Regions from separate parts of the Homo sapiens genome. Here region 1 is linked to region 2. The links come from fine-mapping of genetic effects on gene expression. Tissue or cell type: hippocampus. Region 2 holds a variant in brackets; the other region holds the start of a gene. All regions are shown on one strand. Distances are from middle to middle.

Region 1 (8,105 bases), 28 kb before region 2:
GACCTGTACCAAGCCTTTCTCTTTAGCTTGTAGATGGCCATCTTCTCCCAGTGTCTCTTCACATGATCTTCCCTCTATGCATGTCTGCCTGTCTACCAATAACCACTTCTTATAAGGACACCAATCATATTGGATTAGGACCCACCCTAATGACTTCAATTTTAACTTGATTCCTTCTGTAAAGACGCTACCTCCAAGTGAGGCCACATTCTGAGGTACTAGGGGTTAGGACTACAACATATCTTTTTTTTTTTCTGGTGGATGTGGGGTGGGCGCACAAATTAACTAATTAGCAGGCCTAGAAGTTCTTTGATGAGAAGTAGACTCTATCAGGGTCTTCAGTCACAGGAGTTGAGATGCTGACTCTGTCAATGGGATACTGTCCCTTTTACAAGTGCCCTGAGAATTTATCCTGCCCAGTGGGGGTCAGACCCTTCAGGGAATAACCACAGAACAATTTTGTCTTAGCACAAGACTCTTCCTATCTGCAAGTAATTTGCAAGGATTTCAAACATCTCCGGAGGCTGTAGCCAAGCCCTGGCAAACATCCGAGTCTGTTCAGGGTGTACAGCTTCTGACTCAGGTGGCCAGGCTTGGACCACCTTGCTAAGGGGTCCAGGCCTCTAAAGATGCTCTGGATCTCCTCGGAGGAGACTATTTGTTTGGGGCCAGTTGAGCTTCTTCACCGAGAAGCCTCAGGGCCTTCCCTTGCACAGCCCTACCTCGCTGATTCCCTCACTGGCTGTTCTGAAACTGAAAATGGCCACGAACGGTGTGAGGCTTGTAGACCCTAACAGTGAGGGATAATATTTTGCCAATTGACTGCATTGAATGGAGTCAGTAAACATAGTGACTGAAAATCTTACCACTGTTGATAAGTATTTTCTGAGTACCCAATAGGTATTGTGAGAATACTTTTTTTTTTTTTGAGACCTGGTCTTCCTCCTGGGCTCTAGGGCTCAAGCTATCCTCCCACCTCGGCCTCCTGAGTAGCTGGGACTACAGGCCCAAGCCACCATGCCCGGCTACTTTTTGTATTTTTTGTAGAGATGGGGTTTCACCGTGTTGCCAGGCTGCTCTCGAACTCGTGAGCTCAAGTGATCCTCCCGCCTCAGCCTCCCAAAGTGCTGGGATTACAGGCGTGAGCCACAGAGCCCAGCCCAAGAATACTTATGGAGTCCTGTGACAGATTACAAAATTAGCCCCAACTCTCTGCTCATCCCTGTACTCATATTCTTTGCAATGTGACTTCGCTGCTTCTCCCATCAGGAGATGGAGTCTATTTCTTCACCCTCGAACCTGGGTTGGCCTTGCCATTTGGTTTAGTCGATACAACTGTGGAAGTGGACTAGTGCCGATTTTGAGCCTAGACTTTGAGAGACCTTGCACCATTCCACTCGTGCTCTCGGAGCCCTGCAGCTCCATGTGAACAAATTAGGCTAGCCTGTTAGTAGATGAGAGACATGCGACCTACTTGCCTCAGTTGGCAGCTAGCCACTTCCCAGAAGCAGAGCCTTCTGACTGCCTGGCGATGAACCCGGATGCATGAGGGAGTCCAGCTGAGACCAGAAGAACTGCCCAGCTAAGCCCAGCCTCAAATACTGACCCATAAAATCATGAACTAAATAAGTAGTTATTGTTTTAAGCCACAACTAAGTTTTGGGGTGTTTTATTATGCAGGAAACACTGATGGATACAAGCACTGAACATGCGTCAAGCTCTGGTATTTGCAATCAGGCAGACTCTCGGGAGTAAAGACTTGTGCAGAGATGATAGAATAATGGGTATAATGCACTAAGTGCTCTGGAGAAGCAAAAACAGTAGGAATAGAAGAGGTGGATTTGAGCTAGGGAGGGATCTTGTCTCTGTGGAGTTAGAGGGTCCAGGATGAACTGCCTGGGACAGGGGACTGTCTGAGGGAAAGTATGAATGTTGGAAACCCCAGGCTGGGGCCATCAGCCAGCAGTATATACTGAGCCCTTACCATGGGTACAGAAACACTGTACTGGCTGTCTCAAGTCTGCGTATGGACTAGCAGAGGAGAGAAGACATCCACGTGTAAAAGTTGGGTAGAAGTGTCATGCTGGTTTTCAGTGAAAACAGAAGTAGCTATGCCTGCTTTGTCCACAGTGGCAAGCAGCATCTCGGCTTGGGCAGAATGGGACTCTACCCATTAGTTATTTATATCTGGTACTTGCTATATATCTGGCAGGGATGTGGTGTTGATGGGTTGAGAGAGATCTCCATAGTTTTCCCTGGGAAGGCACAAGGGGTCAGAAAACATGGCTGCTTAAGTATCCACTTGACTGGTAACCCCTTGAGGGCAGGGTCTGTGTCTGATTCATGTCAGTATACCCCAAGACACAAGGCTTTGCATATACTAAGCAATCAGTTTCAAAAGACTTACTTTGGAGATATTTATCATCCTCTTCTCTTTATTCCTACTAACCTATTGTAGTTTTTTCCTAGGGCTGCTATAACAAATGGACATAAACTGGGTGGCAACAGAAATTTATTCACTTACAGCTCTGGAAGCTATTAAGTCCAAAATCAAGGTGTCTGGAGGGTTAGTTCCTTTTTGGAGGCTCTGAAGGAGGAATTATTCCCTGCCCGTTCCTAGCTTCTGGTCCCTGCTGGCAGTGCTTGGCACTCCTGGCCTTGGAAATGCATCAGCTGATCCCTGCCGCCATCACCACAGGTGGTTCTCCCTGTGCGTCTCTTCTGTGTCTCTTCTCTTACAACGACACCAGTCTCAGTGGATTAGGGGCCCGCCCTACTCCAGCATGACCTTAACTCATTACATCTGCAACGGCCCTACTTCCAAATAAGATCACATTCTGATGAACTTTAACATATTGTTGGGGGTGGAGAGGGCATAAGTAACCCTTAACATCCATCGAGGCCCAAGGGAATGTGTGTTCTTTGACTGCCTAGACCCCCTAGAGGCGGAATTAAATATTCTTTTTTTTTTCTTTGAGACAGAGTCTCACTCTGTCCACTCAGGTTGGAGTGCCCATCTCGGCTCACTGCAACCTCCGCCTCCCGGGTTCAAGCGATTCTCCTGCCTCAGCATCCCGAGTAGCTGCGGCTACAGGCGCCTGCCACCACGCCCGGCTAATTTTTGTATTTTTAGTAGAGACGGGGGTTTTGCCATGTTGGCCAGGCTGGTCTCGAACTCCCGACCTCAGGTGATCCGTCTACCTCGGCCTCCCAAAGTGCTGGGATTACAGGCGTGAGTCGCCGCGCCCCGCCCTCAAGTCATATTTTATAGATGAGAACATTAGGATTGGAGACGCAGGGCCGAGACACAGGGCCTTGCATATACTAAAAACCTCAATGGGCACCCGAAGTCATCATAGGAAAATTTCCCTATGCTCCATGTTCACGTGTTTCAAAGTATCCCTGATCTGGCTAATTCAACTCCATTCCCTCGAGAAAACCCAATCTGGAGCCCCGGTCCTAGAGATCCTGGGATGTACTGCGCGTCCCACTCTGTATCTCCGCCCCCTCAGGCGTTCTCCCTCTAGAAGCAGCACACAAAGCGGTTACTCCCTGCGGCCGGGAGCGCGCGGGCTGCCCTTCCGCGCGCCACCCCCGCGCGCGCCGCTCCCCCACTGATTGGCTGAGCGCATCCCGAGCCCAGCCTGCTCCCGCCGCGGCGCCGGTCCTGGCGCCGGGATTGGCGGAGTGGCCGCGCGCGCAGATCCCGCAGCCCCGCGCGCCCCGCCCCGCCGGCTCGGAACTCGCCTGGGGCGCCGCCGGCGGCGGAGGGAGCGTGACTGCGCTGCGCAGGGCGCTAGGAGGCATTGTCGCCGTAAGTGGAGCCAAAAGCGGCCCGGAGCGGGACCACACGCTTCTTGCCCCGCAAAGTAAATGTAGTCCGAGGTCAAGCGTTGCAGGGGCTGGGGGAGAGAGGGCGAGAAGTGTTCCGATTTTTGCAGCGTCCCCTCCCCTCCCCCAGGTCACCCGGTGGAAAAGAGCAGCGGTGCACCAGCGGAGGCTCTGGCGGTGCCAAGGGGCTCGGCATGCGCGGGCTCTTGCTTGCTCACTGCACCTGGACCCCGATGGTTCAGGGGAGTGGGTGCAGAGGTGCCAGGGAATAGGGAGCTCGGAGAACCGCTCCCAGGCGGGCCTCCATTCCTCGCGGGAGGCGCCCTTGCTTGGAGAGGCTGCTGTGCATTTCGTCCCCGAAGCGACACTTTCGGGGTTTGCTTCCGCTCTGGGGAGCTGCAGACGCCTGCTCCAGAGCGTGCCTCTCGGCCTCCGGGCAGCGTGGGAGCCCCGGGGCCTCTGCGATCACTACCATTCTTCCCTCTGCCAGCTTTATTCTCCCAGTCCCCGCCTGCCGGGCCAGCGGACGAGGTGCCATTGGCTGCAGGCACCGGGGGTGAGGCGGATCCTGGCACGCGGGGCTGGGGGACCCTTGCCTGGCTACCGCGCGTAGTGCTGGAGGCTCAGTCCGAGGATGCCTAGATGTTAGCGAGGGAGCACGCGCTGAGCTTCCCGAACCCCATGCCACAAAAACAAGGCGCCAGCAGGTCCCGCTCACGTCCCAGCGGGCTTCTTTCCCTGGGGTGGGGAAGTGGGTCAACTTCGTTCTGATCTGAAGGGGGGTTTGGGACTATTTGGGTCGCTCCTCACCTCCCCACCCGCTCCCCGGCTTGGCATGGTCCAGAGCCCGGGCTGGAGCCAGCGGTAGGGCCAGCTTGCACACATGGCTCCGGAGGCTCCGGTTGCCCATCCGAGCCCCTGCCAGGCTCTAACGTTCCCAACTGACAACACCAGTAACTAAATATAGGAGCAGATGGTGGGGACGGGCTGTCGCAGCGGCTCCTTTGCAGAGGTCTCCGGACTGCAGATAAGGTAGAGTTATTGATGGTAAGGGCTGGAGTCAGGGGGCCAGGTCAGGGTTTAAGCAAAAATCACCCCTCCCCCAGCCAGCCTGAGTCCAGGTGAAACCAGGTTATAGGGACAGGAGGGCTGTATTGCCAGCTCCCCCAAAGCAGGACAACGTTTTTGTCTGGCATTGAATTTATTACATCCAAACTTCCTCTCTACACCTGTTTGATTACCTACTGGTAATGCCTTGGTGTGGGAAACATGTAATGGTTCGCAAAGTCCTTTCCCAAAAGTTACATATCAGTTACTTCCCACAATAATCCGGTGAGGAAGGTGGTATTTCCATTTTACAAATGGGACTGCTCACAACACTGTTAACTTTGCAAAACTATGGATTAGGCTGCCTTCCTCAAAAAACTTCTCTTAGTTCGCTACACAGAAGCAGAGGACAGCCTTGTAAGAGGGCTGCAGTTCCCTTCCTCAGTAATCTGGGAGCCCATTGGCTCCCTGTCTCTCTCTCTCCTGAATCTCTTTGTGCACCTGCTGCTCACCCCTGTCCCTTCCCCCTGGCCATGCCATGTGCCTTCATGCCCCCCTAGGCCTGGCCCTGTAGCCTTACTACTATCAGGCTCATCCTGCCTCCCAGTGGGAAGCTTGTTCTAGCCCATACCCAGTCTCTGCCCCTTTACTCCCACAGTGGGGGCCTTATGGAAGGTGTCCAGGAGACGTTTGCTGGATTTAAACATTTCACCGGACCAGGATGCTCACTCTGAGGAATGGGGTTGAGGGTGTGTGGAGAGGGCCATGCTTTGAGGATGTAGGCAGTGTGAGTATGAGCTTCGACCCTGTGCTGAAGTGTCTCTGGGATTTGGAGTGCTTTCCCTGACATTTTCTAAGGCCTACCCTCTATTGCCTGGGACTGGCTGGGGCCAGTAGTGCCAGCTGGCTGGGGTGCCCCAAGCGGCGATCTGGCCCATGTGGGCTGATGGTGTCTGTTTCTGCCTTTTGGAACACTCTGTGACTCTCCACTACCACCATCCCTGCAGATGGCATTGACCAGGTACCCTGAGGAGCTCAGGCCTGTCAGCTGGACTTCATGAAACAATTCTTCCTTGTGGAGAAAGGGGCAGTTTTAGGTGAAGGGAGGATGGCTTCCTAGCTAGTTAATAAGCGTGGTGATTTTAAGCAGCGGGAACCTTTTGGGGGTCCCGAGCACATTTTTGCTGTACTCAGAGCATCCTCCATCCTCTGGCATAGAAGGAAGGGGCCCTTCTTCCTACTGAATTGCCCTGACACCTAGACTTTACATGTTGTTTCTGTTCCTGTACCTGTGTACACTCTGACCCACACAATAGGACGTCTGAACTTGCCACCAGTGGTGAAATTTTTAATCTGACTAGTTTTCATCAGTGGTCTAAGGCAAGGGTCCTCAACCCCTGGGCTGTGGATGGCATAGGTCCGTGGCTTGTGAGGAACCCGGCTGCACAGCAGGAGGTGAGCACCAGTAAGCATTACCGCCTGAACTCTGCGTCCTGTCAGACCAGCGGCCGCATTAGATTCTCCTAGGAGCCTGAACCCTATTGCGAACTGCGAATGCGATGGATCTAGGTTGTGTGCTCCTTATGGAGAATCTAATGCCTGATGATGTGAGGTGGAATAGTTTCATTCCTCTCCCACTACAGTGGGAAAAATTGTCTTCCAGGAAACCGAAAAGGATGGGGACCGCTGGTCTAAGGCACCACCTCCCCATCTGGTGGTAGCTAGTAGAATTGCAGGCATAGTGCCTGATTGAAAATATTCAGCCCAGGTGATCCCACCAGGCCTACCCCCTACCCTGGGCAGCTTGGTGGCTTCCCTTCCTTTCCCTCTCTGCTGTGAGGCCAGGATTGCTTCAGTGCTGTTCTTCAGAAAGCTCTTCCTCATCAGAATCGCAAGTCGGAGCTGCTTCCTGCATTTCTTTCTCCCTCTTCCTTCTTATCCCTCATACCTAGGAGATGCTCAGTAAATGTTTATGATTATTGATGATGAATTGGAGATGGAGAAAGGAGGGAGCATGGAATGGTGGGAAGAGTCCTAGGCTTGGACTTAGGATACCTGGGTTTTTTGTTTTCATCTAGCTGATTTGCCTCCCCTCTTGGGTCCTCAGCTTTCCCATTCATAAAGTGGTTAGAACAAGTCACCAAGATGCTAGCAACATGGCTATGATTTAGGCTTAGGGGTACGGTCTTCGAGGCAGCATGGTGAAGTTGTTGGGTCCAGTTTGCCACAGTCCTTTCTATTCCCTTCTGCCCTGCACTGGCTCGCCTTATGCAGATTGGCCACCTGGCACTATTAGGCATTTGGTTTTTGACCCTTCTCAATTTAGACAGTGTCTTAGATTTGTTGTAAGAGTCTCTTGACCTGTATTCAGATTGGAAACACAAATGATGTCTGTTGATCTTCACCATTAGGGGATACTAACTAAGCACCTGTGTTCAGTGTGTGGAGAGAAGCACAGTATAGGTCTATTCCCTGGCCCCAAGCTGCCCACAGGTCAATGGGGGAGACAAGTGTTGGTTTGTTGATTTATTTATTTTTGAGACAGAGCTTTGCTCTTGTCACCCAGGCTGGAGTGCAATGGGACGATCTCGGCTCACTGCAACCTCCGCCTCCTGGGTTCAAGCGATTCTCCTGCCTCAGCCTCCTGAGTAGCTGGGATTACAGGCATGTGCGACCATGCCTGGCTAATTTTTTTTTTTTTTTTTTTTTTTGAGCGCGAGGTTCACTCTTTGTTGCCCAGGCTGGAGTGCAATGACACAATCTCGGCTCACTGCAACCTCTGCCTCCTGGGTTCAAGTGATTCTCCTGCCTCAGCTTCCCGAGGCGCCCGCCACCACGCCCAGCTAATTTTTGTATTTTTAGTAGAGATGGAGTTTTACCACGTTGGCCAGGCTGGTCTTGCATTCCTGACCTTAGGTGATCTGCCCACCTCGGCCTTCCAAAGTGCTGGGATTACAGGTGTGAGCCACCATGCCCGACCATTTTTTTTTTTTTTTGTATTTTTAGTAGAGACGGAGTTTTACCATGTTGGTCAGGCTGGTTTCCAACTCCCGACCTCAAGTGATCCACCCGCCTAGGCCTCCTAAAGTGCTGGGATTACAGGCATGAGTCACTGCGCCCGGCTGACAAGTGTATATTTAAAAGCTCATAAATAATCCAGGTGACTTGTGCTAAGTCATTAAGTGCTACTGAAACTCAGAGGAAGGAGAGAACACTGAGGCAATAAG
Region 2 (8,105 bases):
GAGGTTTGAGGTGGGTGCCCTTTCTGGGGAGGTGGGGCTAGGCTGGTGGGCAGAGAGGGGAGGGAGGGGCATTCTAGACTGCGGTAGCCAGTCAGCATGGTCGGTGAGCTTGAGGAGTGGCAGGTGGTTGAGGCCAGCCATGCCAGGCAGTGGTGTCTGTCTGGGGCAGACGTGGTGCACAAGGCACTGGTTGGCGACATTTGTTGCTGCTTCCTGGGTCCCATCAGTCATGCATCTGTGAGATCAGGAGGACAAACAACTGTTCTGAGAAGCCATTGCTTACAGGGGTGGATTCCTTGCTATATCAAGCCCTGAAAGATTGTCCGAGGAGGAGAAAGTTGCTGTAGAAATCTGGTCAGTTGGTAACTGCAGCCCTCTATCCCCAGGGTGCTGTGTCGGTTCAGCGGGTGTGGCTCTCGCAGCTTCCATCTGCTGCCCCCTCGCCCTCTGCCCTGCTCCAAGTGGATTGCGTTGTTTGGCATCTCATCACACCCGAAGATAACCTTGAGAGTAGTTTTGTGCATCCCACATTTGGAGAGACATAGGCTGTGTTCATTTCTGTGTTTCACAGATAGGGAGGTTGAGGCCCCATAAGTGACTTGCCCAAAGACACTGGGTTAAAGGCAGCAGCAGATCCGGGTTTCTGGACTTTCTCTGTAGGGCGATGTTCTCAAGAAGATGTCAAACTCTACCCTTTGCCTACTTAGTGTGTGGCTTTGAGCAAGTTCTTAACTTCTCTGGGCTTTTGTTTCCTTCTCTGCAAAAAGGGACTGATTGATGCTTTCCTTGCAGGAAGACCTCAGGGCCTGCCCAAGCCTCTCCAAGGTCTGGCTTGGCCACGTGGCCTCCTCCACTCGGACCAGCTGTGGTCCCTTTAGAGCCATTAGTGGCCATACTGTTAGTGTCATCCTGGCTGCTGTTTCTATTCCCTTTTGTATGTATACGTTTGTGATGAGTCATCAGTGAAATCAAAATAATTTAATGTCTCAAATTGTTGACTGTGTGTCATTTGATTGTATTCTGTGTGGGATTTACTTTTGATTTTAATTGAATATGGGCTTCTTTTCTCCTTACTGGCTTGCCAGGAAGGAGGGTTTTTTTTGGAAAGTCCCAGAGCCCATGATAGCACATGCGGTTGTCTCCTCGTCCAGGGCTTGTGAGAATAAATGCAATCCAGAGGTCATTTCTCTCCTCCAGGGATGACAGAGCTGAAGCACATCTTTGTCAGATTCTCAAATAAAAGTAATACTTTTGCATCCTCATAGCAGCATCTCTTACTTACTGAGCACAAACTACCTGCCAGGCACTGTGCTAAGAGCCTTGCAGACGTTTTATTTCATGCTCAGAACCACCTGTTCGTTGGATCCTGTTGTCCTCATTTCTTTTTGAGGTATATTCAAATACTGTAACGTTTACATTTTAAAATATACAATGCAGTATTTATTTGTATATTCACAAGATTGTATAACCATCACTGCTGTCTAATTCTAAGCCATTTTCATCACCCAAAAAAGAAACCCTGTACCATGCGGAGTCCTTTCCCATTTCCTGATCTCCGCCCAGCCCCAGGCCATTACCAGTCTACTTTCTGTCTCTATAGATTGCCTCTTCTGGACATTTTATGTAAATGGAATCATGCAACATTTGTCCTTTTGTGACTGGCTTCCTTCACATAGCAAAATGTTTTCAAGGTTCATTCATGTTGCAGCCCATGTCAGGATTTCATTCCTTTTTATGGCTGAATAATATTCCATTGAATGGATATATGACATGTCCTTTATCTGTTCATCAGCTGATGGACATTTGGATTGTCTCCACTTTTCAACTATTGTGAAAATGCTGCTGTGAACATTTATATACAGGTGTTTTTTTTTGTTTTGCTTTGTTTTTTGTTTTGTTTTGTTTTGAGGTGGAGTCTCATTCTGTTGCCCAGGCTGGAGTGCAGTGGCGCGATCTTGGCTCACTGCAACCTCCGCCTCCTGGGTTCAAGCAATTCTTCTGCCTCAGCCTCCTGAGTAGCTGTGACTACAGGCACCTGCCACCACACCCTGCTAATTTTTGTATTTTTAGTAGAGACGGGGTTTCACCATATTGGCCAGGCTGGTCTCAAACTCCTAACCTCGTGATCTGCCCGCCTCGGCCTCCCAAAGTGCTGGGATTACAGGTGTGAGCTACTCTGCCCAGCACTACATACAGGTTTTAAAACTTTATTTATTTGTTTTTATTTTTTTGAGACAAAGTCTCAAAAGGTCTGGCTCTGTTGCCCAGGCTGGGGTGCAGTGGCATGATCTTGGCTCACTGCAACCTCTGCCTCCCAAGCTCAAGCGATCCTCCCACCACAGCCTCCCAAGTAGCTAGCTGGGACTACAGGCATGCACTACCACACCCAGCTACTTTTTGTATTTTTTATAGAACCAGGGTTTTACTGTGTTGCCCAGGATGGTCTTGAACTCTTGAACTTAAGTGATCCTCCCACCTTGGCCTCCCAAAGTGCTTGGGTTACGGGCGTGAGCCACCATGCCCAGATTGCATACAGGTTTTTGAAAGAGCTCTTGTCCTCACTTTACTGAAGAAGAAACTGAGATTGGAGTTAAGTAACTTGCCTGAGGTCCCACAGCAAGAAAGAGTTGGCCCAAGAAAGGATTCAATTTGGATTCTGAGAAGAAGATATTGCTTTCTAGGTCTCTTGTGTGGTTAGAAGTTATTCTGACTGAGTATGATAGCCACTGGCTGGAGGGCCTCATGCTCAGCTTTCTTCTCTGAGGCCAACTCTCTGTAGCACATTATTTCCTAGAGAGGCAGGGGCTTCTGCAGCAGGACGTGAGAAGGCACCTCTGAGATGCAGGATTCGTGTGTGCGTTTGTCAGAGGGGTGTCCACACAGCCCTCTGAGCGTGCGGCTGCTCTCCCCAGCAGCTCCCGTGAGCTTTGCCCTGGCAGGACTTTAGCTCTGTTCCCTATGTCCCCATCAACACCCATCTCCACTGATCCAGGTTTTTGGGCGTTTGAGGAAAAACATACCCCAAGGGTCACTGCATGTTGGGGATGTTCCTTTCTTTAAACTGGAGATATTTGTAAGAAGTCATTAAGTGCTTGTAAAACTCTTGCACAATATACAAGTCCATGAAATAGGAAGTGAAAGAAAAAAATCCCCCTAAACCCACTGGCACTTTCAAGTTGAGTGGTTTCCCCACGTCTCAGAAGACGCGCCTTCCCGAAGTGCCTTTCTGCCCTTCTCTTCCCGACAACCCTCCCGGGCCCAGTAGCTGTGTGTGCTATTGCGGTGGGACTTTCTGGACGTATGTGGTCCTCGGTGAGCTCTTCCTCCCATGCCCTTTTCTCTATAAGGGGCATGAGACAGGAAACAGGCTCAGAAACATTGCTCTAGAGATCGGGAGTAAAACACCCCCAAAGACCTGAAAGTGGTTGTCCCTGGGGGAGGGGATTTGTCAAGAGGGAGCAAGTCCGGCTGCTTTTTGTCTTAAGCCTTTTAGAGCCAGCCAGCTCTGTAAGCACTACAACAAACAGCTTTGTTAAAGTGATGCCTAATTGTGCCCAGTGATGCACGGCACGATCCCTTGATGAGCAGTTGTTTTGCTCGCTGTCTGCATCCTGTGTGTCCCTACTTTGGAAATTGAGTGACATTTCAGAGACTGGCAGCTCAAGTCATGGGGGGCTCCTGTTTGACAGAGGGCTGTCTGAAGAGCCTTTGTTTAGTAGAATCATGGAGTCAGAGGATGTCTGGTCTGGTTGAGACCCCAAATCATCTAGTCCAAACCCTCATTTTACAGATGAGGGGACAAGGCCCATGAAGAAGTAGTGTCTCTGAGCTCCCCCTGGCTGATAGTGGAGGGGCTGGGATAAGAATTAGGCCTCCTGAGTTACAGCCCAGGGCGGCCTCCACACCGAGGGTCACGTGTGCCTCTGAGTACCAGAAGCATGAACAAAGCGAGAGAAGAG[A/G]GTGAAGAGACTCTGTCTCTGCTGCTCTGTCCTGAAATAGTCTGCTCAGAGGGGAAGCAGGAGGAACCCAGGGCACAAAAAATTTCCATGAGCGTGTAAACCTCATGCCCTTAGGCAGGCAGGAGCAGCCAGCACTCAGTTACTGTCATTACCACCCCATTATCATCATCAATACAGGAAGCAGCTACATCAGGAGGAGGCCTGGCCCCTCTAGGCCAGTGATGCTTCAGCTAAAACACAGATGCCTGGGCCTTACCCCCAGAGTTTCTGATTCTGTGGGACTGGGGTGGTGCCTGAGAATGTGCCTTTCTGACAAGTTCTGGGGTGATGCTAATGCTGTGGGTGATGCTGATGCCCTTGGAGAACCACTGCACTGGAGTAGCCCTTGCTACTTAGTGTGGTCCTTGGACCTGCTGGGTGGAAATGCAGACTCTTACGCCCCACCTAGACATGTGGCATCAGAATCTGCACGTTGGCAGTGTCCCCAGGTGTCACACTTTAGTTTGAGAGGTGATGGTATGGTGCAGAGTTCACCTGGCTGCACGTTAGAGTCACCCAGGGAGCTTTTACCCTCCCTTCCATTCCCAAGCCCCAGCCCCCACTAATTAAATCAGACTCTCTGGGAGAGAGACTTAGGCATCAAGAGTCTATAGAGCTCCCAAGGTGGCTCCTGGTTGTGGCCAAGTCCTAGAATCCACAGTGGCAGCTGCAAGGGGCCTTGGAGATGATCAGTTGCAATTTACCAAGATTTGAAAACTAAGGGCATAAGGACCCAAGGTCCCACAGACAGTAAGTGACAAATCCAGGCTGTTGATACCCTGATGACTCTTTCACCAGCTCTTTCAACTCTAAGTCCCCTTTTATATAGTTCCATGGGAACTGCAATATACTAGTGTTCCCAGGGAACCCATTGTAAATCATGGAAGATCTATCTGCTCATTGGAAACCCACCACCTCCCAATCTGTTTCAGCATGGCAGGCTGTCCTGAATGCGGGTTACATATTCTAGGGAGGCAGTGTAGCATGGTGGTTAGGAGCAAACCCTTAAGCTCAGCAGCTTACTAACCAAGACTCCTGGCTCTGTGTCTTGATTCCTCCTCTGTACAACAGGAATAGTAATAATAGTGCCCATCTCATGGATCATCTGAGGTCAGGAGTTCGAGACCAGCCTGGCCAACATGGTGAAACCCCTTCTCTACTAAAAATACAAAAATTAGTTGGGCGTGGTGGTGCATGCCTGTAGTCCCAGCTACTCAGGAGGCTGAGGCAGGAGACTCACTTGAACCCAGGAGGCGGAGGTTGCAGTGAGCCGAGATTACACCACTGCACTCCAGCCTGGGTGACAGAGTGAGACTCTGTCTCAAAAAAATAAAAAATACAAAATAGTGCCTGTCTCATGGGGATGTTGTGATGTTGTGGGGGTTAACTGAGTTAATGCATGACAAGCTGAGATCACTAATTGCAAGCAGCAGGCACTTTGTAAATGTTTTTTATTATTTCATTAACTGGTTGACCTTGAATAAGTCATATGACTTAGAACAATTTGTTTGACTTCTCCATGACTCAGTTTCCTTAACTGTTAACCAGGGGTAAGCATAGTAGTGACCTATTTATAGGGTGGTTGTGAGGAATGGAGGGAATAAAAGGTCTGAAGCCCCAGCACAGCTTCTGGAACACACCTGGTGTCAATCAGTGGTGGCTGCAGTTATGTGTTAGAGACTCAACACCGGTGCAGGAGAAAGTTCTGGCCAGGCCAGAGTCTGAGCTAGGTTGGTCCTGCTCCTCTCACGGGAGCAGCCAGAACCATGAGGATTGAAGTTTCTGGGGATGTTTTTGCCTGGAAAAAAGTTTATAATGTTCTGTGGTTGCCAGCAGCTGGGGGATGGGAAAATAGGGGGTTAACAAGTAAAGAGTTTCCGTTTCGCAAGATGCAAAAGTCCTGGAGATTAGTTGATTGCACAACAATGTAAATATACTTAAAGCTACTGAACTGTACATTTAAAAATGGTTAAGATGGCACATTTTAAAAAATATTTAATTTTTAAAGGGGAGTGTTAGGTTCACAAGGTTCACAAGCAAAATTAAGAGTTAAGAATAGAGATTTTCCAATATACTCCCCACTGCCCACAAACAGGCATTGCCTTCTCCATGATCAACATCCCCCACCAGAGGGGCATATTTACTACAATTGGTGAACCTACGTTGGTGCATCATTGTTACCCAAAGTCCATGGTTCACATTAGGGTTCACTCCTGGTGTTGTACAGCCTTAGGCTCAGATTAATGTATAATGACATGTGTCTGCCACATGTCACTTTCACCGCCTGAGAATCCTCTGTGCTCTGCCTGCTAATCCCTTGCCACTGATAAAATGCTACATTTTTTTTAGCAGTTTTTAAAAGGAGGATTTATTTGACAAGTTTCACTTAGCACAATATACCTAAAAGGAAGTCACACTACAATGAAAGATTTAAATCAAGGCCTCAGAATTTCATACAAACACCAAGGCCAAAATTCTAAAGTATTGGTATTGCGTTTCAGATTTTTCCCATTAACTTAAAAAAAAAAAAAGCTTAAACGTACATGCCTTACAAGTTATTAAGTGAAACTAGAATTAACAAACATGCCAAAATGTTTCTAGACACAGCTCCTACCTTGAGTTTTACAAAAAACAAAGCATGTCTTTCCACATGCATCCAGTGTTCAGTGTAATGTGGCAAAGGGCAACATTTAACATAATTCAACTTCTTTCACCTAAATATGCTTACTAAGTACACCCTATAATATAACTAACTTGAGAAAAGCTGGAACTTGCTCAACAGTTGTAGTTTACTCGGCTTCACTGTTACATCCTAGATGAGTATTGTGTTAAAAAATATTGAGCCTTAAGTCTTCATAACAATCCTGATTTCCACTAGAGAGTAAGCATAAATCACAAGCTTGTATTGCAGAAACTGTAAAGTTGACCAAGAGTCAGTGATTAGGATCGATCAATTACATTTCCCTCCACAACTCACACTGGACGTGTTAGACATCCCTCCCATTCCTCATGCCTATAGATGCATGGCTTCCATGATTCTAGTTGCTGCTATTCATTGCTCCTTGGCTACTTATGCAATGTTTGATTGAAAATCACGGGAGTTTTCCCGTAAAACTTGGTCATATCGCTCGCTAAATTTTTGTTATGTGTATTTTACAATAATTAAAAAGAAAATGTTTATAATGTCCTTTGTCATCATTTATGTGAAGGATTGCCATGCAGAAGAGAGGGCAGCAGGACTGGTGAGTGGTGAAGGGTGGCAGTTATTAATACAGTTCGTTAAAGAACTCTCTAACAATTAAACTCATTCTATGGAAGGAGGAGGGAGCCCTCCCATCACCAGTGTTCAAGGAGAACTCTATGACCTCAGATGGAGACATGGAGAGATTTCAGGCCTCAGATTGGAGGCTGTGTTACTCAGTGTTTCCCAAGTTTGCCTATTGATAAGAATCACCTGGGGATATTGTTAAAAACAAATTTCATGGCACCATCCCAGATTCACTGAAAGGTAGAATATCTGGGGGAGGATGAAAGGACCAGCCTCTTCAGATGATTGTCTCTTTTTTTTTTTTCTTTCTGAGACAGGGTCTCACTCTGTCACCTAGGCTGGAGTGCCATGGCACGATCTCGGCTCACTGCAGCCCTGACTTCCTAGGCTCAAGCAATCCTCCCACCTCAGCCTCCTGAGTAGCTGGGACTACAGGTGTGCACCACCATGACTGGCTAATTTTTTATTTTTCTAGAGACAGGGTCTCACTGTGTTGCCCAGGCTGGTCTCAAACTCCTTGGTTCAAGCAATCCTGCCTCAGTCTCCCAAAGTGCTAGGATTACAGGCATGAGCCACTGTGCCCAGCCTTCAGTTGATTCTAACTCAGAAGTTTGGCAAACGTCGGCCAAAGGACCCCCGGTCTCCTAACCCTGAGATTCCATGAAGAAAGCTTCTCAGTGGGAGTGGGTCACACTGGCCACAGAGTTCCTCCAGTAGCCTTGGGAGCCTTACTTCTTGGCTAGGTCACAAGCCCATGTGCCTACTGGCCTGAGTCCCTGACACCCTCGCCTCTGGGCCCTGTGACTTGGTTGGCAGGGAAGTCCTGCTCCATTTCCCAC

Which allele goes with the higher level. Alleles are on the strand shown, and positions count from the first base shown. SD is a standard deviation of normalised expression in the study named.
For the expression in hippocampus of the gene that starts at base 3,738 in region 1, G is the high allele of the variant in region 2 and A is the other (small effect, 0.17 SD a copy in GTEx).

What was found. PIP is the estimated chance that this variant, and not a neighbour inherited with it, causes the effect.
Region 1: it holds the start of LRRC20, and the variant in region 2 is fine-mapped to the expression of LRRC20 in hippocampus (GTEx, PIP 0.93).

Annotation. Positions count from the first base shown.
Region 1 is chr10:70,378,258-70,386,362 of GRCh38, reverse strand. It overlaps LRRC20 (leucine rich repeat containing 20), which reads left to right and starts at 3,738. Exons shown (of 5, transcript NM_001278212.2): 1 at 3,738-3,814. RefSeq lists enhancers at 3,234-3,333, 3,864-4,063, 3,908-4,527 and a silencer at 3,464-3,833.
Region 2 is chr10:70,350,652-70,358,756 of GRCh38, reverse strand. All of the region lies in intron 2 of LRRC20 (leucine rich repeat containing 20), which reads left to right. Among named protein-coding and RNA genes, the nearest start is that of LRRC20, 28 kb to the left of the region's middle. RefSeq lists enhancers at 2,882-3,091, 3,312-3,411. The variant A/G (reference allele first, on the strand shown) is at 3,960.